Homo sapiens: one gene and its partners. The protein of the gene in region 2 interacts with the protein of the main gene of each other region in a pairwise test. Each region holds a gene or a part of one and is shown on either strand. Other genes may lie near its edges. The genes, in order: TMEM229B, ARL13B, FXYD6, KLRG1, SPN, ANKRD46 and PTPN9.

Region 1 (3,500 bases), on a different chromosome or scaffold from region 2:
AGCCGGTGAGATGCTCTTAGTGAACAGGGCTCTGAAAGCCAGATCCCCTTCCCCTTCCCCATCACCTGTTCCCTTGAAGGGGTAGTTCCTAGACCTCACAAGTCACCTTGAGTCCTGGCCCTTCGATGGGACTCTGTTTGCCCAGGCCCTTTCATCAGGTATGAGGACTCTCGGATTTGAATGTTGTTCAATGAAACCCTGCTTGTGAAGCTATCCTTTGCTCTCCAAACTCTGTCCTCCTGCATTCAACCTTGCTCACACTCTCCTCCTCTTCAATCCACCCTGAATTTCTGTTCCTGGGCTGTCCTATCTTCATGTCACAGGTCTCAGGACAGTTTTGTTTGTCACCAGGAGAAAGAAGCCAAGGTCCCCTGAGCTGCCGGTTCTCCCTGCAGCAGGCTTTCCCAGGGCTCTGATCCCAGGGCTGAGCAAGGAGCTAGTGGAAGGAGCCTAAGGATATAGGGAGTCGGGTGGGTGGAGGCCGGGGCAGGGAATAGAGGCCTGTCAGGCCCTGTATGGGGTGGGCGAGCCTGTCCTAGCTCAAAGTTAAGCACAGCTCCTGTGCTGATTAGAAATGGGTTTGGAGAGTGGGGTTCTGAAAACGCATCCAAGTCAATGCCCAGCCTCTAATATTATCATCTTCCCCACCACACTGGGAGCTGCCACCTCAGCCAATGACACTGTCTCCTATTCCTTTCTCTTCAACCCCATCTTCTGCCCTGACTCAGGTCTTTCATTTCCCCTGTTGGTCTTGCATGGACCAGCTATGTTCTCCTAGTTCTGCCCTCGGACACTGTCTGACATTGCCGTGGTGTGCTTCCCCTCCATCTACTACCCATGGCTTCCTGCTGCCCAGAAACAGAATCTGGGCTTGGGGCACACCATATTTCTCTCTCCCCCATCTCGCTTTTTTGTTTTTCTTTCTTTCTTTCTTTTTTAAGAGACAGGGTCTTGCTCATTGTCCATGCTGGAGTGCAGTGGCACAATCATAGCTCACTGTAGCCTCAAACTCTTGAACTCAAGGGATCCTCCTGCCTTAGCGTCTGGGACTACAGGCACACCACATCAAACCAGCCTACTTTTTTTTCTTTTTGTAGAGATGGTGGTCTCGCTATGTTGCCCAGGCTGGTCTCGAACTCCTGGCCTCAAGCTATTCTCCCACCTCAGCCTCCAAAAGTGCTGGGACTGCAGGCATGAACTCCATCCTCTCTTCTGTTCAGCAACTTCCTGTCTCTCACCCTAGGTTTCTCTCTCCCTTTGACAGCTACCCCTTTCTTCTTGCTTCTGCTCCAAGGGTTTTGGGATCTGACTCTCCCAAGTTACTTGCTGGGGTTGGGGAAGAGACTGGACCCTCCCGTCTGTTACCAGCTGGGAAACCGGTCTGGGCCATCCCAGAGAGATCAGAGGCAAGAAGAGCAGGGTTTAAAGTCAGCTTCAAGGCTGGGGTCTGGCCTGAGTAATGAGATCCACACAGTCATGTCAGGCTGCTGCAGGAGAGCCCCTGTGAGGTTCCTGTTCCCTCAGCCCGGGCCCTGGGGGTTGGAAGAGCCAGGGGGATACGTGCAGGTCATGGGGCCTGAGTTGGGGTAGGAGGTCCAGAGGTCTCCACATCCCTGTGCTGTGCCATCTGTCTCAGGCCCTCAGACCGCCTCAGTGTGTTCCCCTGGAGCCTGGATCTGTTCTCTCCTGCCCGGGGGTAGGAGGTTAAATGAGGGGGTGAGAGGCTGTGCCCCTTTCATTCCACCATCTTTTCAAGTCTGCCCCTCGGGCTGGCTCTGACACCCTTCCTCTTCCATTCATCCCTCGGTAGCCACAGGGAAGCTGGAGGCTCACCTTCAGTCTCCCGGGATGTCTGTGGGAGTTTTGTTCTCCTGAGGGCCATATGTGGGGTTATTATTGCCACCCGATTTCTTGGCTCGCTAGCTTGGTGCTCAGGGTTGTGATGAAGACCTAACCTGCTTGACAGGAAGGGCTGCCTGGAGGCTGCCGAGAGCAGGGGCACAGTGACCCTGCATCGGGTAAGAGGCGGTGTAAAAGCAGGAGGGGCTGTCCAGAGGTCTGGCTCTGTGCCAGAAATGACAGCTGCCCTTTCTGGAGCCTTAGCTGTATTTTAAGTAGTGTATATGTACGAGTTCATTCGTCCTCACAACAGCCTTCTGTGGTCATTACTTCCGTTATCCTCACTTTACCTACAAGGACCCTGAGGCACAGGGTGGTTGGGCAGCGTCCATTAGGTCTCACAGGTGGAAAGCATCAGCCAGGATTCCAACCCAGGCAGTTAGGATCATCTGGGGTCCCTGAACTTAACCAGCTGGCCATATTGAGACCTGTGAGGCATGGTTTGTTGTTGGATGACACAGGAGGGAAGAGCCTGCAATAATTTTACATGACTTCAGGTTTCTTTGGGTTCATTTGCTTAGCAAATTCATTGAACACCTTCTATACACGAGGTATGAATACGGTGAATACATATTCATTCCACAAGCATTTTTTTTTCCTTTTTTGAGACGGAGTCTCACTCTGTCACCTAGGCTAGAGTGCAGTGGCGCTATCTCGGCTCACGGCAACCTCCGCCTCCCAGGTTCAAGCGATTCTCCTGCCTCAGCCTCCCGAGTAGCTGGGATTACAGGTGCATGCCACCATGCCCGGCTAATTTTTGTATTTTTAGTAGGGATGTGGTTTCACCATGTTGGCCAGGCTGGTCTCGAACTCCTGACCTCAGGTGATCTACCCACCTCGGCCTCCCAAAGTACTGGGATTACAGGCATGAGCTACTGCACCCAGCTTCCACAAGCATTTTTTTTTTTTTTTGAGACAGAGTCTTGCTCTGTAGCCCAGGCTGGAGTGCAGTGGTACGATCTCGCTCACTGCTACCTCCACCTCCTGGGTCCCGGTTCAAGCAATTCTTCTGCCTCAGCCTCCCGAGTAGCTGGGATTACAGGCACACGCCACCACGCCCAGCTAATTTTTGTACTTTTAGTAGAGACAGGGTTTCACCATGTTGGCCAGGCTGGTCTTGAACTCCTGACCTCATGATCCACCCACCTCAGCCTCCCAAAGTGCTGGGTTTACAGGGTGAGCCACCACGTCCAGCCTCCATAAGCATTTTTAAGATGAAATTTTAGTTTTATAAAAGTTATACATGCTTGTTAGGAAAAAAAAGTATGCAGAAAAATATAAAGAAAAAAAGCACATATGATATCACCATCCAGAGATGATTGTTGTTTAATTTTTTTGTATATGTGCACATATGCATGCCTTTGCAGAATCGGAGTTAGGTTGAATATTCAGTTTTGAATCCTGCTTTTTTCTCTTACCACTATCTTAAACAAGCATTCCTCAGGAGGCTGCTGGTGCTGGCGTTCAGATGAATCCAGTGAAGCAGAGTGCTCACTATTACCACAGAGAAGGGAGGGTGCAGAAGTGGGAAGACAACTCTGGAGTCAGGGTGCTTAGGAAAGTCCTCACAGAGGAGGAGCTGGGTCTTAAAGGAGGGTTCA
Region 2 (3,500 bases):
ATTGTATTTGTTCACCTCTCCTCACTTAGATCCTTTCCTAGTGAGCATATTATTCCAGACATTGGAATCAGGGATTAGATTTGTGTGATAAGGACAAGGCAGGAGTCAGAGATCAAGTGTTAAGGCACCAGTCTAGGTCAGCAGTCAAGATCTTATAAAAGTTTAACGCTTCATCCCCCTTAGTGGAGTACTGAACCCCACTTATTTGGGGTTTGGTATGGCCCCATTCATGAATTTTGGTTCAGTTTGGTACGGCTCCATTCATGAATCAATGAATGTGGAAATAAACTCTTGAAATTTTATTGTTCCTAAGTTTATCTTTTAAAAATATGTTACCAAATTGCTCCTCAGAAAGGATTAAAAAAGAGAAAACACAGTTTCTACTCCTACCAACAGTACGTTGGAGTGCCTTTTTCACTGAGAAAATCAAGAGTCATCGGTTTTTCATCTCCTTCACATTATAGGGGAACCTGCTTTCTGCTTTGAGTTTCTGGGGTTTTTTTTGTTTTGTTTTGTTTTTATTACTAGGAAGATTAACTTTTTTTCCTTGCGCATTTTTGTTTCTCTCAGCAGTTGTCCATTGATTACTGTTGTGTTTTTTCTATTGGGGCAGGTGTGTTTTCTTAATGAATTTTTAAAAAGAAATTTTAAGTGTTTGTCGTAGCTACTGTTTCTCTGTAGTACAATTGACACTTGAACAACGCAGGGTTTAGGAGCACTGAACCCTGCCTTGCCAGCACAGACAGAAATCCACATATAACTTTTGACTTCCAAAAAACTTAATTACTAATAGCCTCCTGTTGACTAGAAGCCTTACTGATAACATGAATAGTCAGTTACCACATATTTTTTATGTTATATGTATAATTTATTGTATTCTTAAAGTTAGAGGAAAGGAAATGTTAAGAAAGTCATAAGGGGCGGAGCACGGTGGCTCACGCCTGTAGTCCCAGCACTTTGGGAGGCTGAGGTGGGCAGATCACTTGAGGTCAAAAGTTCAAGACCAGCCTGGCCAACATGGCGAAACCCTGTCTCTACTAAAAATACAGAAATTAGCTGGGTGTGGTGGTGGGCACCTGCAATACCAGCTACTTGGGAGGCTGAGGCAGGAGAATCACTTGAACCTGGGAGACAGAGGTTGCAGTGAGCTGAGATCATGCCACTGCACTCCAGCCTGGGCGACAGAGCAAGACTCTTGTCTAAAAAAAAAAAAATTAAAAAGAAGAAAAAAATACATTGACTATTTATTAAGTGGAAGTGGATCATCATAAAAGTCTCCATCCTCATCTTCTTCCCATTGAGTAGGCTGAGGAGAAAGAGGAAGAGGGGTTGGTCTTACTGTCTCAGGAAGGTTTCAGAGGCAGAAGAGGTGGAAATGGAGGCTGGGGAGGCAGAGGAGGCAGGAGAGGAAGGCACACGTGTAACTTTCATTAAAAACAAATTTGTGTGTAAGTAGAACTGTGCAGTTCAAACGTGTGTTGTTCAAGGATCAGTTGTATAATATTGCAAGTATTTTCTTTCCATTTGTTATATTTTCAACTTTTTGTGCTTTTTAAATATAAACATTTAAAATGTTTGAATTCAGGCTGGGTGTGGTGGCTCACACCTGTAATCCTAGCACTTGGGAAGATCGCTTGAGCCTAGGAGTTTGAGATCAGCCTGGGCAATATAGTGAGACCCCATCCGTACAAAAATGTTTTAAAAAATTAGCCAGAAGTAGTGGCATGTGCCTGTAGTCCGAGCTACTTGGGGGGCTGAGGCAGGAGGATCGCTTGAGCCCAAGAGGTGGAGGCTGCAGTAAGCCCAGGTTGCCCCACTGCAGCCTAGCCTGGGTGACAAAGTGAAACCCTGTCTCAATCAATCAATCAATCAATCAATCAATAAGACTAAATAAAAATTTTAAATTCAAATATATTACTGTTTCAGTGTAATGTTTAGAAAGTTCATCAGCATTACAAGATTACATTCACATATACTTTTTTCTTGTAGTTTTATATTTTCATTTTTAACATTAAAAACTGTTAATCTATTGCAATCTATTTAGCTTATAGGGAGCAGCCTTCATCCTGAGTACAGGACACAAGGTCTGTGAAGCTATGATGCTCAGTAAATCTCTGGGCCTTATAGCAGATTCTAACCCTTACACATTCTCATCTACAGATTTTGAGCTCCTGTTATTTATAACATAGCATCTAGGTGATGAAATAGTGCATGTAAAATATAATGATCGAATATGCAAGAGTTGAAATATGATTTTTAAGATTTTTAATGAGAATCAGGAAAGAGGATTTTAGAAGGGGTGTAATTTTACCTGGGTCTTGAAGAAATTCATGCAACAAATTTTGCATACAAATTTTGGCAACAAAATTCTTTGTTTATATGAAAATATACATGTTATATAACTTCTTATATATTATGCATACATAACTAACAAAAATGTTTTTACTGTTATTTAACCAAAAAGAAAGATATAATAAGTACCATATGCCTGCCAGGTTTTATAAATATTAATCTTTAGTCATCATATTTCAATTTTATTTTAATAAGTAGGTAACAAATCCTTGAAACTTCCTGCCCCCTATTCATCTCCCACCATTCTTCCACAGAGTTAACCTTTAATTGGAACTGATTTCTTGTCCATCTGTGTTTTTTCAGCATCACAAATACAACCTATCAAAGCTTTACTTCAAATTTATTAGTAAATTGTTTGCTGTGGCCAAGTCTAAAATAAGATACAGTACACAATGTTTCTAGTGGTCTGTTTTGTCCTCTTTGCTATGAACTTTTTCACTGAGGGAATACTTAGCTCCCTAATACCATCATTCTTGGCCTAAATAAATATAACTGTAAATCTAGACCATTTATAGAAATTGCTGAGTTCTTAATTTTCCAATTAAGCTGTATGTACAGATTAGCAAGGATTATCTATTGTGCTGTATGCTGAACTGGAATATTTTACATCTCTTTTTATCCCCCTAGTTCTTCTTGATTATGCATAGTAAGAATTTTAGAATTTTAATATAGAAAAGGACCTAGAGACATTCTTATTTTACCCCCTTATATTTTAGAGATGAAAAAATGGACACTAAGAATTTGACTTGATCAGGGCTTAAAAGCAGGCTATAAACCCAAGCTTGGCCTTCTCACTATTTATTCATACTCAGTAAATTTAGATAATGATTTTGCTGTAATATGGGGTTCTAGATCTGAATTGAAATGTCAGAAAATAGTGTACTGCAATAAAATCACACTGTTTTTTCGATACATTTTTTTCTTTCTATCAATTTGTCGTATAGTGATTTTTTAAAATTCTCACATATGTATCATAAAACCTTGTTCTAAAGTCTTTTTTTGTATATGTATTTGTTACTTTTAGAATTTATGTTTATGTTAAAATTTAGAATTTGCTTCATGTAGTTTTAAATACTGTAGATAATAGAGTTCCGATGTGTCAAACTTTGATTTTAGTGTTTTTAGCGAAATGTTTTCTTTGACTTGCA
Region 3 (3,500 bases), on a different chromosome or scaffold from region 2:
TGCCTGAGTTGGCCTCGCAGTACTGTTCTGTGTTTCTGCTTCTGAGGGCTGTTGTGAGAAGTCCATGGGTGATGGCTGGGATGCCACAGTGTCACGGTTGTCAGTGATGGTGAGGTGACAGCAAGACCTGGGAAGGGGGCTGGGGCCCCACGGACCAGGCTGGGGCCCAGAGAATGGGGCTGCCCCAGTTCAGAATATCTGATGTGGGCAGAGAGGGCCAAGGATGAGGGGATGTGATTGGAATGACAGTGACCCGCATGCAGCTGGAGGACAAAGCCAGGCCGGCACGCACTGAAAGACCAGAGGCTAAGATCTCTCCACCATGCCTCCGCTTATGGTCCAGCTTGGGATCTTTCCAGGGAGACTTCCAGAAAACAGGCCTGGATTTGTGATTTGTGAATTCTGTTTCTGTTTCTAAGGAAGAGGCCTTATTTCTTTTCACAGTCAGTTATTTTCTGTCTCTCTCTCTTCTTCTTCTTCTTCTTCTTTTTCCTCTGTCCAAGTTTCTCTTCCCTAGAAAGAACTTCATGTTTTCATGTTAAAGATAAAGGTGCCTCCAGGTTAAAAATAAGTCCCCTGCTATATGACAAGAGAGTTTTGCCTCTCCCGCTCCACCCTGTGCAGCCGGGCTGGGTTGGGTCTGGGCCGGTTGAGTCCAGGGTACCTGACGACTCAGCCTCCAGCACCCTCGCAGTGGGAGTGCCCCTCTTCCATGAATGAGGGTTGGAGGGGCAGCATTCGAGCCGTTGGGCTACTGAAGGCGCCTGACAGGAGAGGGAAAGGCCACCCTGGGAGGTGTCAGCCACAGTGATGCGCTGGGCGGAGGTGCCCTGTCCTGCTCCTAGACTGTCCAGCTGCCTTCCTGGCAGCTTGGGAAATTCAGCAGTGTCTGCAGCCTCCTTGAGCCATGGACTGCTGGAATTTCACCACCCTCTGCTCTGTCCTTTCCCTTGCCAGTCTCTGAGTCCAGTCTCCTCCTCGACTCCTCTCTGGAACATTGCTGGCTGGGCGGGGCGGGCAATCATTTCAAGTTAGGTGATTTAACAATAATTGATGCTTAATTGTTTATTTGATGGGCATTTAAAATGCAAATTGAGGGAACTGGTTGCATTTTCCACTGATGGATCTGTGGCCTCTGGTCGACCCAAAGCACTTGTTTTAAAAGGCAGCTTTAAAAGCCCTTGATGGTTGTTTGTTTGCTCTGAGGCTCTGAACCAGAGAAGCCCAGCTCCTGTTACAGATTCATCAAATGCCGGAAAGGTGAGCAGGAGCCGGAGTGCTGGGATGGGGTTGAGGATTGCTTTTAACTGAATTTTTGAATTTTTATTATTTTTCTACGAATAGACTATCTTTTTAGAACAGTTAGATTTACAGAAAACTTGGGCAGATTGTATGAGTTCCAATTTTCTCCCCTGGCATGCAGTTTCTGCTATTATTACGATCTTACATTAGGGTGGTACATTTGTTACAATTAATGAACAAATATTGGTACAATAATATTGACTAACATTGACACTTTATTAAAATGTCGTTCGTTTGTACCTTATGTCCTTTTTCTGTTCTAGGATCCCATCCAGGATACCACACTCCATTGAGTCGTGCCTCTTTTGGTGCCTCTGGGTGGTGACCTTTTCTCAGGCTTCCCAGGACTTTGACAGTTCTGAGGGTCACTGGTCAGGTGTATTGTAGGATGTGGCCCTGTTGGGATTTGTTCGATGTTCTCCTCATGATTAGACTGGAGTGATGGGTTTTAGGGAGGAAGATCACAGAGGGAAAGTGCCATTTTCATCACATCACACCAAGACGATACAATCAGGATGATTCATTGCTGTTGACGTTGATGGGACTGGGTTTTCCATCCCTTTCATGCCCCCCACGCAGCACAGTTTCAAGGCCTGGTGATTGGAGCTGTGTTCTCTCCGCTCCTCGAGACAAACATACCAAACCATCAGCCAGCACTTTCGGCCGTCCTCACCATCCCAGGTGAGGACAGATCATGGGGTAGCACAGAGACTTTTCCGATAGGAGAATCTTAATGAAGCGAGCATGAAACAGAATGTGCTATGCGCCAAATTAGTGCCAACGACAGGCGACAGGCGCTCTTGGAGTCTGGAGAAAGGGGTCTACGTGGAGTGGCAGCTGGACAAAGATAGCATTTATTAACCTTGGCTGCACATCAGAATGAGTGGGGGAGATTCTCAAAATTACCGATACCTTGGCTACACTGCCCTTGGCTACACTGCCCGGGTTTAGAGCTGAATGTGGCTGAGTTGATTTCCAGGCATCTTTTTTCTTTTCTTTCTTTCTTTCTTTTTTTTTTCTGAAGCTCTTCATGTGATCCTAAGGTACAACCAGGGTTGAGAACTGGAATAAACAAAGAAGGGAAGGGCATTGTAAGTAGAAGGAACAGAATATACAAAGGCACGCAGTTAGAGACACATGTGGCAGAAGATGGAACGTAGACCATCTTAGCTGAAAGTAATGAGAAGATACTGGAGGGGTAGAAGAGAGGTACACTTAGAGATTTTCATATGCCAGAAAGAAGTTTGGATTTTAAAAAACTAAATAGGACGTAGAGGCACCACCGAATGCCTTTGAGTTTGGGAGGGAGGTATTCAGAATACACTTTAGAAAGGTTAGTCCTGCAGTAATCAGTGTCCAGCACAGAGGGGAAGGAGGAGGTTAAAGATGGGTCCAGCTACTGCACTATTAGGTAAGTTACCCAGAGGAGTGACGGAAAGGAAGTTCCAATTAGAGAGATACTGCAAGTGCGAGCATGGCTAGGACTTTGCCACAGATGCAGTGTGGAGATGGGGAAGGAGAGAGGAAGCCCCGGAAACTTGGTGAGGCCGTAACCTCCGTCAGGCAGGGAGGCAGGGATTGTGTCTGTCTTGCTCACTGCAGTGTCCTCAGTGATGAGTGAAGTGCTGGAAAGCATTAGGCCATCAATAAATATTTGTTAACTTGGTTACTGGAAGGATAAGGGTGCCATTGTTTCCAAAATTACACCTTGTTCCAAAAGTACGCTCTTTCTCCCCCAATTTCTCCACCTAAATGCAGGCAAATTTCTCTGCTGTGGAAAGCAATCTGATTAAATAACTCAGGCCAAGATATAAATGACTGTTAGGATTGGGAGTATTTCTCTTGTAGTGATGCCGTGACATTTAAACGTCTCTCCTTGGGAAGAATTGTTGTGGAGGCAGATACATTTTTGAGTAGGGGTGGCCTTTATTTCGATTCTACACCCTCATCTAATTCTGAGCCATACCAGAAAAAAAGGTGATCTGCAGCTCTGCAGCCCACGGTGAAAGGCTGCCGGCTAGTAGTTCTGTTGGCACCCACCCTGAGCTGAGCTCCAGTGGACAGGATAGCCTACAACTGGTCTGGGACTCCATCCAGTACTCAGCATAAATGCACTGGTATTCTGCTAGGCAAAGTGCAGCGGGGCACTCAGCAGCTGTGAGATGGACAGAGGCTGAGAGGGACACAGGAGTGCCTGT
Region 4 (4,059 bases), on a different chromosome or scaffold from region 2:
AAGCTAGGGTGATCATTGCACTCACCTTTGTATTCTCTCAAGGATCACAATGCTGCCTGTGTGTTCCTGAAAATAGCTGCCTTGTGTGTCTTGCCATGTGTTGTATTTTGATTGGAGAGTAAGTCTAATGCCATTCTGTCATGGCTGGAAGCAGAAATATATTTGTTTTTATTAATATAAAACAAATTAATATAAAGCACTCCCTGTTTCTCTTCTTTTATCCTTATGCAGTCTATCTTGATGATCTTATCCACTCTTAAGAGTTTCAATACTCTTTCTGTTTCCTTACTTTAACTTTTGTTTTTTTTAGACGGAGTTTCACTCTTGTTGCCCAGGCTAGATAGAGTACAATGGTGCAGTCTCGGCTCGCTGCAACCTCCGCCTCCCGGTTTCAAGCCATTCTCCTGCCTCAGCCTCCTGAGCAGCTGAGATTACAGCCCCCACCACCACACCCAGCTAATTTTTTTGTATTTTTAGTAGAGACGGGGTTTCACCATGTTGGCCAGGCTGGTCTTGAATTCCTGACCTCAGGTGATCCACCCTCCTTGGCCTCCCAAAGTGCTGGGATTACAGGCGTGAGCCACCACACCTGGCCTACTCTAACTTTTTATTAACTTTTCACCTACTAAAAACAAATTACTAAGATGTTAGAATGTATTTGTTTACTTTGCTCTTCTTTTTAGTTATCTTTGCATGAAGTATAATAATAAAAAAAATAAGACAACAAAGAGAAAAAATATAATGGAATTTCTGATACTGTGAAGGGTAAAGACCATCACACAATTTGGACAAGGTTTTGGGGAAGATGTGGTCATGTCATATTCACAAAATATATCTGGGTAATAGTCTATTTCTCCCGTGATTCCAGGCATATGCACCCAACAGTCCATTTCGTTATTGCTTATCACTGCCCAAAAGTTCCAAGAAATGATGAAGTCAGTCTCATTTGGCATACATCTACTTTTTCAGAAGGAAACAAAGCAGAGAAAAAATTCCGAGAGAAATTCATAGCTAGTAACCACTCTCACTTTTATTTTAGTTTCCATAACTGAAATTGCTGGACTTGAGAGCAATTTTTCCTTGCTCAACAGAATTAGGTGAGATGGGGAATCAATTTAATATATATTTAGTGAGCATCTACAGTGTCATGGGGCAAAAAAATAGCAACTTACAATATTAATTTCTATAGGCAGCCCCCAAATTTGAATCATTTCCTGAAAAATTACTTCTGCTTTTGTGAAGTTTCCTGCTAGCAGTTTAGAGATTGGGCTGTTTCCTCACTGATACATATCCCTTCACACTTCTATAATTTAACTCTCTCAACTGCATGTGAAAGATCTTAGCTGAAGATGACTGACAGTGTTATTTATTCCATGTTAGAGTTGCCTACGGCAACCCAAGCCCAGAATGACTATGGACCACAGCAAAAATGTGAGTTAACCAAGGTAGCATGGAAGACGATGCATAGCAACAGTAGGCTATGGATGAATGGGGAGTAGAATAAGTTTAAAGCAGAGGGTGCAGAAGAATTGAGGATAATTTGAGGAAATACTTTTGGTTCAGTTTAAAGTCCAGAGTTGGAATATGAAAAGTTGGTGTATGGTACAGGATCTGATCTTAGGTCTCAGGTAAACTCTTTTCTAACTGTTCACTTCTTTGATCGCATCTTAGAAACCCAACTTAGGGCATTGCCGTTATTCCTTCTTGCTCTTAGCTAAAGCGGGAACTTTGTTGGGAGAATTTTATCTCTTTAGTTATATTCGGAGTAACCTTGGACCAGCTGTTTAAATTCTAGGTATGGCTGTTTTTCTGACTATGGAATGAGGAGGACACCAATAGTTTTGCTGGTGGATACGAGTAAGATTTTTGTCAGGAAAGAAACTGATTTACATATCTAGTTTTGTTTTTTTTTTTTAACTTCACAGTGTTGCACTAGAATGGTGACAGGGAAGAAAAAGTATCAAGAAACTACAGATAATAGTCTCTGTGACTGAGGATTTGAAGGCAAAAGAGCCATTTTTACATAGAGCCCTGAGAGAATATTATCTGAGACAGACAGGTAATAGTGTAAATGCCAAAATTAATCCTTGATTTTGTATCGTAGGCAGTGAACTCCCACAAGGTGTATTCTTTAGGGTAGTTCCCTAAGCTTTCTCTCTTTTTACTACATAGTTTTACTATTATAATTTTTAATGTCTTTTGAGAGTGTTGCCTTAATTTGCTAAATCATTCTAGTATACTTGGGATATTTAGACCTATTTCTATTACCATAAATTATATAGCATTGGATATCTTTATTTGTGTAACCTTTTCCTATTTTTGAATTGTATCTATGTTAATTTCTAAGGAATAGAAATATTACGTTAGAAGTAATGCATATCTCAAAGTATATGTTCAAGGTCACACACACAACTGGTGATAAATTGGAACCTAGTTGGAACTATTTAGAGGCTTTCAATATATACTTAAAGTAAATTTTAAAAATTTACTTTACTTCTTGAATTGGCTTGTGGTTACACAAATTCAATTATGGTTTGATACCTTTTTAAAATTTAGCATAACATAAAAATGAACATTTGTGTATTTCATTAAATGTTCTCCTGTGATGCAAATGTATTTTTAAAAGTTTTTCTAGAAATCTTAATGCTTTTGGATTCATCAGTCCAAATATTTATTATGCAGAATTCTCTATTTATGAAGGCATCTCTCATTATGAATTTTTTTCTTTAAGAAGTTCAGAATACTCCATAGATACACACATATATAGAATAATTTATCTAAAATTTAATCAGAAAATTGAAGCCCAAATAGGCAAGTTTAATTTCCTAATTAAATGTTATTAAGCAAAGGAATCAAAATTAGAAGTTAAATATCATCTTACTTCACAGAGTTTTGCTCGTTACACGTAATTTCTACACTATTGCACTATGAGATACCTTTGATTTTAAAATAAAGATTTGCTGAAAATACTTCCATTTTTCAAATTTAAAATTTAGATTTCGGTTGTATGCAACACAGCTAACATGAAGTAGTGTCCTATTCTTAAACTTGGCATCAACTTAAACTTACTGCTCTTTTAATAACGACAGTTTACAAAGCACTTCTGAAATGTAGATTATTTTTATTTAAATTTTATGTATTTCAATTTCGAGTAGATAATATGTTTACATGGTTCAAAATTCAAAAGGTACAAAAGAAAATAGGGTAAAAAGTCTTTTTCCTATTTTGTCTCCAGTGACTGTTTTTTCCATTCCAGAGGCAAACAATGTTATCAGATTCTTGAGTGTGCTTGCAGAGATATTTGTATATCCTGTTCTGCAGAATGTTTCTTTGTCTTGACTATATATCTTACAAAATATTCCATATCAGTTAAAAAAAAAGCCAGTTTTTATTAGAAGCTATATATTCACTTTATGGATATATCAAAAATGTATTTGACTGGCCTTTTACTGATAGAATGTAGATTGTATTCAGTCTTCTCCTCCTACAAATATTGCTGCCACGAATAAATATGACATTTTGCACCCGCGAGTATCTGTAGGAAAAATTTCTTAAGGAGAAATTTCTAGGTCAAAGGGTACATGCCTTTGCCGTTTTGGTAGATATTGCCCAATTGTCCTCCAAAGAGGTACCAATTTGTATTCTCACCACCTAAGTATGAGACAGTGTAAGTCACAGTTTCAAAGGAAAAAAGCATTCTTTATCTTGATAAATATAGTAAGTTCTTTGATACAGGTGTTGGTGGTTACCTTAGACTTTAGAGCAAGTTCCTGACACATCTAGAAAAGGAATCTTTATGGCCTGGATCTCAGTTCCCACTAGGCCAAATTGCTTTAAGATGCGATATCCTTCCCTGACTTTCTCTTTTCTTTCAACCTGTCATCTGACTCAGGATTGTGCTTTGACTCTGTTGTTGCAGCTTCCTCTTCCAGGCCTTCTTGTTCTTGCCTTGTGGCAATAGCTTTGGGGCTTCTGACTGCAGTTCTTCTGAGTGTGCTGCTATACCAGTGGATCCTGTGCCAGGGTAAGTGCAAACTTAAACCAAAATTAATCTTTCAT
Region 5 (2,222 bases), on a different chromosome or scaffold from region 2:
AGCAGACAGGTTGACCTGCAAAAAAAGACAGGGGAGGCATGTGAGTGTGACAGCCCTGCTCTGTGGCCTGGGCAGGAGATGGGGGAAAGGGTCAGGTGGGGGATGGGCTCGTGCAGTGGGAGAGGAGACGGAGGGAGGGAGCGGGAAGGGGCTTGCTTAGTGGGTGGGAAGAGCTGAGCTCGGATGGAACCAGCTTCTACCAGCCAGGCTGGGCACCCACTGGGCTGCATCTGGTGGCCTTTTCTGATTGCTATTTGGACTCACTGCAGCTGCAGAATGACAGAGGCCATGTCCAAAATCCCTTAGAGACACTGTTGTCTTAGAGTTGTTAAAATAAGAGCCCCCATATCAGGTTTAGAAAATACTGTCACCGAACGAACGTCGCTGTCCTCAGCTCCACCTCCCTTTCCTTTGACAGATATGGTTGTTTTCTAAGCCAGGACTGGTTTTAGTCAGGTCCTGGGCGAATCCTGAAAAAAAGAGGTAGTACGGGTAAGGAAGGCACCCAACAGGGCTTTCACAATCCAGAAAATATCAAAATATAAGTGTTAAAAGAGAGGCACAGGCCGGGTGCGGTGGCTCACGCCTGTAATCTCAGCACTTTGGGAGGCCAAGGTGGGCAGATCATGAGGTCAGGAGTTTGAGACCAGCCTGGCCAATATGATGAAACCCCGTTTCTACTAAAAATACAAAAGTTAGCCAGGCATGGTGGTGTGCTCCTGTAATCCCAGCTACTTAGGAGGCTGAGGCCAGAGAATTGCTTGAACCCTGGAGTCAGAGGTTGCAGTGAGCCGGGATCATGCCACTGTACTCCAGGCTGGGTGACAAAGTGAGACTGTCTCAAAAAATAAAAATAAATAAAATAAATAAAAGAGAGGCACAAACAGTGTTATGAATGCACCAAGGAAAATGGTGCATTCATAACTCTCAGGTGAAGCCTACCAAGCCATGCGTGTGTGCACATATGTGTGTACGTGTGCATGTGCGTGCGTGCATGTGCGTGCGTGCATGTGCCTGTGTGTGTATGTGTGCACATGTGTGTGCGCATGTGTGTGTGTGCGCGCATGTGTGTGTGCATGCATGTTCTCCCATGCATGTGTACTGTGGCAAGGGAGACTTTGAGGAAGAGATTCCAGTGGCTGAGCAGAAGGGCTCGCATTGCCCTGGCGAAAGGTTGGAAGGCTTCACCTGAGAGTGTGTCGTGGCCTTTGTCATATCCACTGCTTGATTCCTTTCTTTAAAAATTATTTTTATTGTTTTCTACATATGAGAACCACCACACCTGGCTAATTTTTGTATTTTTTGTAGAGATGGGGTTTCACCATGTTGTCCCGGCTGGTCTCAAACTCCCGGGCACAAGAGATCCACCTGCCTCAGCCTCCCAAAATGCTGGGACTATAGGCATGAGCCACTGCACCCAGCCACTGCTTCATTCCTGGTGGCTGCTGTGCCTGGCATGTTGCAGATCCTCCATGAATATGCATTTGAATGAATGAATGAATGAATGAATGAATGAATGGAGATGACGCCTCAGAGATTCTTTCTTTTGAGATGAGGTCTCATTCTGTCACCCAGACTAGAGGGCAGTGGTGCAATCACAGCTCACCACAGCCTCAACCTCCTGGGCCTCCCAAGTAGCTGCGATCACAGGTGTGCACCAACATGCCCAGCTAATTTTTTTTTTTAATTTTTAATTTGTACAGACAGGGTCTTGCTGTGTTGCCCAGGCTGGTCTCAAACTCCTGGGCTCAAGTGGTCCTCCCACCTAAGCTTCCCCAAATACTGGGATTATAGGTGTGAGCCACTGTGCCCAGGCTTGCCTCAGATATTTGAAGGCTGGGAAGGATTTTGCAAAGCTGGGAAAAGGAAAAGGCATTCCCAGCAGAGGGGATAGCAGGTGGAAATACATAATTAAAAAAAAAAAACGTGGAGCAGATCCAGCGCAGTGGCTCATGCCTGTAATCCCAGCACTTTGGGAGGCAGAGCAGGGAGGATTGCTTGAGTCTAGGAGTTCAAGACCAGCCTGGGTAACATAGAAAGACCCTGTCTCTACAAAAACACAAAAAATTAGCCAGGCGTGGTGGTGCATGCCTGTAGTACCAGCTACTTGAGAAGCTGAGGCAGGAGGACTGCTTGAAGCCAGGAGTTTGAGACCAGCCTGGGCAACATAGTGAGACCCCGTGTCTACAAAAAGTAAACATTTATATATATATTTTTTAAAG
Region 6 (3,500 bases), on a different chromosome or scaffold from region 2:
CTATGGATAAAAAAGGGACAAACTATGGATACACACAGCTACCCTGGATGAATCTCCAGAGAATTATACTGAGTGAAAAGACCAATCCCAAAAGGTTCCTGTATGTGCTGTATGGCTCCATTTATACAACATTCTTGAAATGACAGAATTAAAGAAGTGGAAGACTAGGTAGTGTTTTCTAGGTGTTAAGGAGAGACTGGCATGGGAGGGAAGCAGGAATAGCTAAAAAGGGCAACATATGAGAGATTTTTCATGGTGATGGAAATGTTCTGTATCTTGACTATATCAATGTCAGTATCCTGGTTGTGATGTTGTACTATAGTTTGGCAAGATGTTACCATTGGGGGAAACTGGATAAAGGGTGCACAGGATCACTCTGTGTTATTTCTTACAACTGCATATGAATTTATAATTATCTCAAAAAGTTTAATTTAAAAAAGTCTTTAGTCCTCTTCACCCATTGGACAATCGTTAAATATGTGCTCTGATTTGTATTCACTTTATGACTTCTTAGGGAAGCTATTAACAGAGTCTAGTGAGTAAGGTCTAACTGAGGTCTTGGAAGTTTTCTTGGCAGGTTTCTAGTAATTTAGTCTAATGAATTTGTATAATATTATTATGAAATCATACAAATCTGTAATTTGTTCAAGTGTATTTTCTTATGGGCCATTGTAATATCCAAAGAAAATGGCAGGCTGGTTGCGGTGGCTCACGCCTGTAATCCCAGCACTTTGGGAGGCCAAGGTGGGTGGATCACCTGAGGTCAGGAGTTCAAGACCTGCCTAGCCAACATGGTGAAACCTCATCTCCACTAAAAATACAAAAATTACCCAGGCATGGTGGCACATGGCTGTAGTCCCAGCTACTGGGGAGGCTGAGGCAGGATAATTGCTTGAACGCGGAGGCCTCTGCAGGTGAGTCGAGATTGCACCACTGCACTCCGGCACCAGCGACAGAGTGAGACTCTGTCTCAAAAATAAAAAAAGAAAAAATTGCAGAAGCATTGTCCTTCTTGTGGATTTAAGAGAACATTAGGATTATTTGGGGGCATGACCATATGAACTATAATTCCATCTCTAGATGAAAAACAAAATTTTTTCTTTTTCCCTAATGTGAGCTCTACCACATCCAGAATAACCCACTTGCACCATTTTAATTAACATTGAAAATTAAAGCCAAATCATACATTAGAGACAGGCTCTAGTCGTTAAAGACTCAGCTCTAGAGGTCAGGACAAGAGAGGAAAAATATTAGGCTTTGGGTGAATACATAATATTTGTTTAAGGAAATCAAGGTAAGTGGCTCCGTGATATGAAGTTCGTCTAAATTGATACTGTGGTATCACAAAAGAAGTAGGAAATGAGGAGCGTAGATGTTTTGTGTGTTATCATGTCTTCGTGATATTTACTGACCCTCGTGTGGGACTGGTCCTCAGGTACAGTTTGTCAGCTATTGTCATCAGTTCCAGCCTAGCACTGATAGCCTTTATGATACAACCTGACTTACATATTGTAAATGGAGCTTTGTAAAATACCATTAATTATTTCCCTATATAAATTTGTTCACAGGGATTTGATAACAATGAACAAGGATGATCGGTAAAAAGTTAACCTGTATTTCACCCTGACCAGGAATTTGGGATTTGGACTTGATAGCATGGTATCTGGCACATTGCAGGCACACAGTGAATGTTTGTTTCATGAACTAATATTGCTATTTTTGTGGTCCTTACTGCCTGCCCATGACCCTGCTTCCACGGTCCTTCCAGAGAAGAGCTGAGTGGGCAGACAGGGTGCCCTCGTAGTCTCTCTCAGTGCAGAGAAGTGCAGCCTGGGTGGGGGAGCAGCGTCAGGCTATGTAAAGAAGACTACAGATAGACTTGGGCCAGCTTTTATTTCACACTGAAAAGACAAGGAAGGGAACAGATTTAAAGAGATTTAAGTACCAGCATTCAAGGTAGATTAGAAATACTTTTTCTTAAATGTATCCTGTTTGGTTTAAATATAAGTATTGGCTTTTTAAACTTATTTTTTCCCACTATGAATAGTATTTTATTTATAAAAATGCTTTTGTGGACTAATCTGGGATCTAGCCTCCATTTATAATGTGAAAAATATGCATTCTGAATTCCAAGTAATGACTGAGAGTGAATTTTCGGAGCCCAATTTGTTCTTTAGTGATGGCACATAATTTGATTCTTATTCTTTTATCTTTCTGTCTTGCTTTCTTGTTTGTGGGCCACAGAGCAGCTTCTATTAAGCCCTTCTTTGCTTCCTTTTCACTACTTTGTTACTCGTCAGATATTTTTCTGGCCTCACAAGTTGATGCCTCACCTACAGATTTTCTAGAGAATTTCTTCAGGCTCAGTAACCTGTCTGTATTTAATAGAACAGTGAGTTCTTTTTCTCACCACACTTCTATTATAACTTAATTTTCTATTTACTGTAGATCCTTGCCAGCACATTACAGAATATTTTTGTTGAACCTTCTTGAGAATTCAGAGAAACTGCTGAGTGACCACTGAACGAAAAGATCTAATCTTAAGGCTTACGTGAGTATTTACTACTGTGGACTTCCTCACAAGATGTGAAACCTTCAGTGAACTGCTTTAGGACAGATTCAGTTCTGTGATCAAGATGAAAAATAACTATCATTGGGCTTATTAAATGTGGGATTAAGTTTAGTAGTTGCTCAGGGACACAGAGAAACTGACAAAATACACACTTGTTCTCACCTGAAAAATAGACACAGAGACTTGTATTTCTTGCTGAGCCAACACTCAGAAGTATCCTAGTCTGCAAACCACAAGAATTCTTACTGTGTCTGAATCAAAAACACCAACTAGATTTTTTAAATTATCTATTTTTAAAAATTTAACCAAAACACATTACCTTTTGAAAAGCACTTGATATGTGGCATTTCATTTTGAAAAAGGTTTATGATAGCTTTTCCATTTTTATGATTCAATACTGTGCAAGCTTGTCCAACCTGCAGCCCAGAACAGCTTTGAATGTAGCCCAACACAAATTCATAAACTTTTAAAAAACATTCTGAGATTTTTTTTGCAATTTTTTAAAGCTTATCAGCTATCATTATGTATTTTATGTGTAGCCCAAGACAATTCTTCTTCCATTGTGACCCAGGGAAGCCGAAATGTTGGACACCCTTGCTGTAAGGGAAAATATTTAGATTACCCTCGCAAAAGAATTCTTGACTATTTTATTGAGTAAATTCTTCTCATTGAGTTTTTCTGTTTGTTGGTTTGGTTTGGTTTGGTTTGGTTTGTTTTTTTGAGACAGGCCTCACTTTGATGCCCAGGCTGGAGTGCTGTGGCTCAATCACAGCTCATCGCAACCTCGACCTCCCGGGCTCAAGTGATCCTCTCACCTCAGCGTCCCGAACAGGTGGGACGAAAGGCGCGCGCCACCATGCCTGGCTAATTTTAAAATATTTTATAGAGACAGGGTCTCTCGCTATGTTGCCCAGGCTAGTTTCGAACT
Region 7 (3,500 bases), on a different chromosome or scaffold from region 2:
TGCTGGGAAGCCTTGTTAATAATATAAAGCTTTTGTTCACTACATCGTCCTTTCAGAAGATGTATAACAGTGTCCCTAATTCCAGGAGTGAATTTTATATACATTCTGGGAGTTCACACTTTTATCTGGCAAATTCATAGGACTTAAATCTCAGGCAGATGAAATGTAGTCTACTACTTTTACAAGTATACCTTGTATTTCAAGAAAATCTTATCCCATCCTCCAAACCTGATATAAATACATTTATTCTTTGTCACTCTATATGCCTTTCCCTCCTCCCACATACTCACATGGTTCTTTCTAACCTTCCAGATTCAAATATTAAAGACATCTGAGGTCACGCAGCATCTGCCCAGGGAGTGTCTTCCAGAAAACCTGGGTGGGTACGTCAAAATTGATCTCGCCACTTGGAATTTCCAGTTCCTACCCCAGGTGAACGGCCACCCAGATCCCTTCGATGAGATCATCCTGTTCTCCCTCCCTCCTGCCTTAGACTGGGACTCAGTACATGTTCCAGGTCCCCATGCTATGACCATCCAAGAGTTGGTGGACTATGTTAATGCCAGGCAAAAGCAAGGAATCTATGAGGAATATGAAGACATTCGTCGTGAGAACCCTGTTGGCACTTTCCACTGTTCCATGTAAGTAGAAAAAGTTTGGGCCAGCAGCTGGTTACCAGGATGCTTCTGGTAGGCTCTGGCAACAGCTCCTTCCACCCCTCACTTGCTTAGCAGAGACCCTTCCTTATGTTAGGGAACATCACTCTCACATAAATGATGGTTTCTCGCATGCAGAAAGAGGTACTTTCTGCTTTGGTGCTTCTTTTTTTTTTTCTTTTTTTTTTAAATTTTTATTTTTTTTATTGATCATTCTTGGGTGTTTCTCGCAGAGGGGGATTTGGCAGGGTCATAGGACAATAGTGGAGGGAAGGTTGGCAGATAAACAAGTGAACAAAGGTCTCTGGTTTTCCTAGGCAGAGGACCCTGCGGCCTTCCGCAGTGTTTGTGTCCCTGGGTACTTGAGATTAGGGAGTGGTGATGATTCTTAACGAGCATGCTGCCTTCAAGCATCTGTTTAACAAAGCACATCTTGCACCGCCCTTAATCCATTTAACCCTGAGTGGACACAGCACATGTTTCAGAGAGCACAGGGTTGGGGGTAAGGTCACCGATCAACAGGATCCCAAGGCAGAAGAATTTATCTTAGTACAGAACAAAATGAAAAGTCTCCCATGTCTACTTTCTACACAGACACGGCAACCATCCGATTTCTCAATCTTTTCCCCACCTTTCCCCCCTTTCTATTCCACAAAACCGCCATTGTCATCCTGGCCCGTTCTCAATGAGCTGTTGGGTACACCTCCCAGACGAGGTGGTGGCTGGGCAGAGGGGCTCCTCACTTCCTAGTAGGGGTGGCTGGGCAGAGGTGCCCCTCACCTCCCGGACGGGGTGGCTGGCCAGACCCCCCCACCTCCCTCCCGGACGGGGCGGCTGGCCAGGCGGGGGGCTGACCCCCCCACCTCCCTCCCGGACGGGGCGGCTGGCCGGGCAGAGGGGCTCCTCACTTCCCAGTAGGGGCGGCCGGGCAGAGGCGCCCCTCACCTCCCGGGCGGGGGGCTGACCCCCCCACCTCCCTCCCGGACAGGGCGGCTGGCCGGGCGGGGGGCTGACCCCCCCACCTCCCTCCCAGACGGGGCGGCTGGCCGGGCAGAGGGGCTCCTCACTTCCCAGTAGGGGCGGCAGGGCAGAGGCGCCCCTCACCTCCTGGACGGGGCGGCTGGCTGGGCGGGGGGCTGACCCCCCCCACCTCCCTCCCGGACGTGGGGCTGACCCCTCCACCTCCCTCCCGGACCGGGCGGCTGGCCGGGCGGGGGGCTGATCCCCCCACCTCCCTCCCGGACGGGTCGGCTGGCCGGGCGGGGGGCTGAGCCCCCCACCTCCCTCCCGGACGGGGTGGCTGGCCCGGCAGAGGGGCTCCTCACTTCCCAGTAGGGGCGGCTGGGCAGAGGCGCCCCTCACCTCCCGGACGGGGCGGCTGGCCGGGCAGGGGGCTGACCTCACCTCCCTCCCGGACGGGGCGGCTGGCCGGGCGGGGGGCTGACCCCCCCGACCTCCCTCCCGGACATGGGGCTGACCCCCCCACCTCCCTCCCGGACGGGGCGGCTGTCCGGGCGGGGGGCTGACCTCCCCACCTCCCTCCCGGACGGGGCGGCTGTCCGGGCGGGGTGCTGATCCCCCCACCTCCCTCCCGGACGGGTCGGCTGGCCGGGCGGGGGGCTGAGCCCCCCACCTCCCTCCCGGACGGGGCGGCTGGCCCGGCAGAGGGGCTCCTCACTTCCCAGTAGGGGCGGCTGGGCAGAGGCGCCCCTCACCTCCCGGACGGGGCGGCTGGCCGGGCGGGGGGCTGACCCCACCTCCCTCCCGGACGGGGCGGCTGGCCGGGCGGAGGGCTGACCCCCCCTCACCTCCCTCCCGGACGGGGCGGCTGGCCGGGCGGGGGGCTGACCCCCCCACCTCCCTCCCGGACGGGGGGCTGACCCCCCCCCCACCTCCCTCCCGGATGGGGCGGCTGGCCGGGTTGGGGGCTGACTCCCCCACCTCCCTCCCGGACGGGGTGGCTGGCCAGGCAGAGGGGCTCCTCACTTCCCAGTAGGGGCGGCTGGGCAGAGGCGCCCCTCACCTCCCGGACGGGGCGGCTGGCCGGGCGGGGGGCTGACCCCCCCACCTCCCTCCCGGACGGAGCGGCTGGCCGGGCGGGGGGCTGACCCCCCCACCTCCCTCCCGGACGGGGCGGCTGCCGGGCGGAGACGCTCCTCACTTCCCAGACGGGGTGGCTGCCGGGCAGAGGGACTCCTCACTTCTCAGACGGGGCGGCTGCCGGGCGGAGGGGCTCCTCACTTCTCAGATGGGGCGGATGCTGGGCGGAGGGTCTCCTCACTTCTCAGACGGGGCGGCTGGGCAGAGACGCTCCTCACCTCCCAGACGGGGTCGCGACCGGGCAGAGGAGCTCCTCACATCCCAGACGGGGCAGCGGGGCAGAGGCGCTCCCCACATCTCAGACGATGGGCGGCCGGGCAGAGATGCTCCTCACTTCCCAGATGGGATGGCTGCCGGGAAGAGGCGCTCCTCACTTCCTAGATGGGATGGCGGCCGGGCAGAGACGCTCCTCACTTTCCAGACTGGGCAGCCAGGCAGAGGGGCTCCTCACGTCCCAGACGATGGGCGGCCAGGCAGAGACGCTCCTCACTTCCCAGACGGGGTGGTGGCCGGGCAGAGGCTGCAATCTCGGCACTTTGGGAGGCCAAGGCAGGCGGCTGGGAGATGGAGGTTGTAGTGAGCTGAGATCACGCCACTGCACTCCAGCCTGGGCACCATTGGGTGCTTCTTGCTAACATCCTATGCTCTGAAATTTCTGAAGGTCTTTGGTACCAACAGGATAACCCTGTTGGACATATTTTTGGATATTTTTCTGAAATGCAAGTTTTTTTTAAAAAAAGTAGG

Evidence for each region.
Region 1: the proteins of ARL13B (region 2) and TMEM229B interact in binary tests that used the Homo sapiens proteins (3 or more experiments, as listed by UniProt).
Region 3: the proteins of ARL13B (region 2) and FXYD6 interact in binary tests that used the Homo sapiens proteins (3 or more experiments, as listed by UniProt).
Region 4: the proteins of ARL13B (region 2) and KLRG1 interact in binary tests that used the Homo sapiens proteins (3 or more experiments, as listed by UniProt).
Region 5: the proteins of ARL13B (region 2) and SPN interact in binary tests that used the Homo sapiens proteins (3 or more experiments, as listed by UniProt).
Region 6: the proteins of ARL13B (region 2) and ANKRD46 interact in binary tests that used the Homo sapiens proteins (3 or more experiments, as listed by UniProt).
Region 7: the proteins of ARL13B (region 2) and PTPN9 interact in binary tests that used the Homo sapiens proteins (3 or more experiments, as listed by UniProt).

What each region holds. Positions count from the first base shown.
Region 1 is NC_000014.9:67,478,722-67,482,221, reverse strand, and holds part of TMEM229B (transmembrane protein 229B), read left to right. Parts: intron 1-3,500.
Region 2 is NC_000003.12:93,983,155-93,986,654, forward strand, and holds part of ARL13B (ADP-ribosylation factor-like protein 13B), read left to right. Parts: intron 1-3,500. UniProt on the Homo sapiens protein: Cilium-specific protein required to control the microtubule-based, ciliary axoneme structure. May act by maintaining the association between IFT subcomplexes A and B. Binds GTP but is not able to hydrolyze fit; the GTPase activity remains unclear.
Region 3 is NC_000011.10:117,866,659-117,870,158, reverse strand, and holds part of FXYD6 (FXYD domain-containing ion transport regulator 6 precursor), read left to right. Parts: intron 1-3,500. UniProt on the Homo sapiens protein: Associates with and regulates the activity of the sodium/potassium-transporting ATPase (NKA) which catalyzes the hydrolysis of ATP coupled with the exchange of Na(+) and K(+) ions across the plasma membrane.
Region 4 is NC_000012.12:8,988,287-8,992,345, forward strand, and holds the start of KLRG1 (killer cell lectin-like receptor subfamily G member 1), read left to right. Parts: upstream 1-1,259; 5' UTR 1,260-1,349; coding exon 1,350-1,431; intron 1,432-1,925; exon of another isoform or gene 1,926-2,059; intron 2,060-3,919; coding exon 3,920-4,024; intron 4,025-4,059. UniProt on the Homo sapiens protein: Plays an inhibitory role on natural killer (NK) cells and T-cell functions upon binding to their non-MHC ligands.
Region 5 is NC_000016.10:29,666,932-29,669,153, forward strand, and holds part of SPN (leukosialin precursor), read left to right. Parts: 3' UTR 1-2,222. UniProt on the Homo sapiens protein: Predominant cell surface sialoprotein of leukocytes which regulates multiple T-cell functions, including T-cell activation, proliferation, differentiation, trafficking and migration.
Region 6 is NC_000008.11:100,532,260-100,535,759, reverse strand, and holds part of ANKRD46 (ankyrin repeat domain-containing protein 46), read left to right. Parts: intron 1-2,448; 5' UTR 2,449-2,551; intron 2,552-3,299; exon of another isoform or gene 3,300-3,404; intron 3,405-3,500.
Region 7 is NC_000015.10:75,502,816-75,506,315, reverse strand, and holds part of PTPN9 (tyrosine-protein phosphatase non-receptor type 9), read left to right. Parts: intron 1-312; coding exon 313-641; intron 642-3,276; exon of another isoform or gene 3,277-3,313; intron 3,314-3,500. UniProt on the Homo sapiens protein: Protein-tyrosine phosphatase that could participate in the transfer of hydrophobic ligands or in functions of the Golgi apparatus.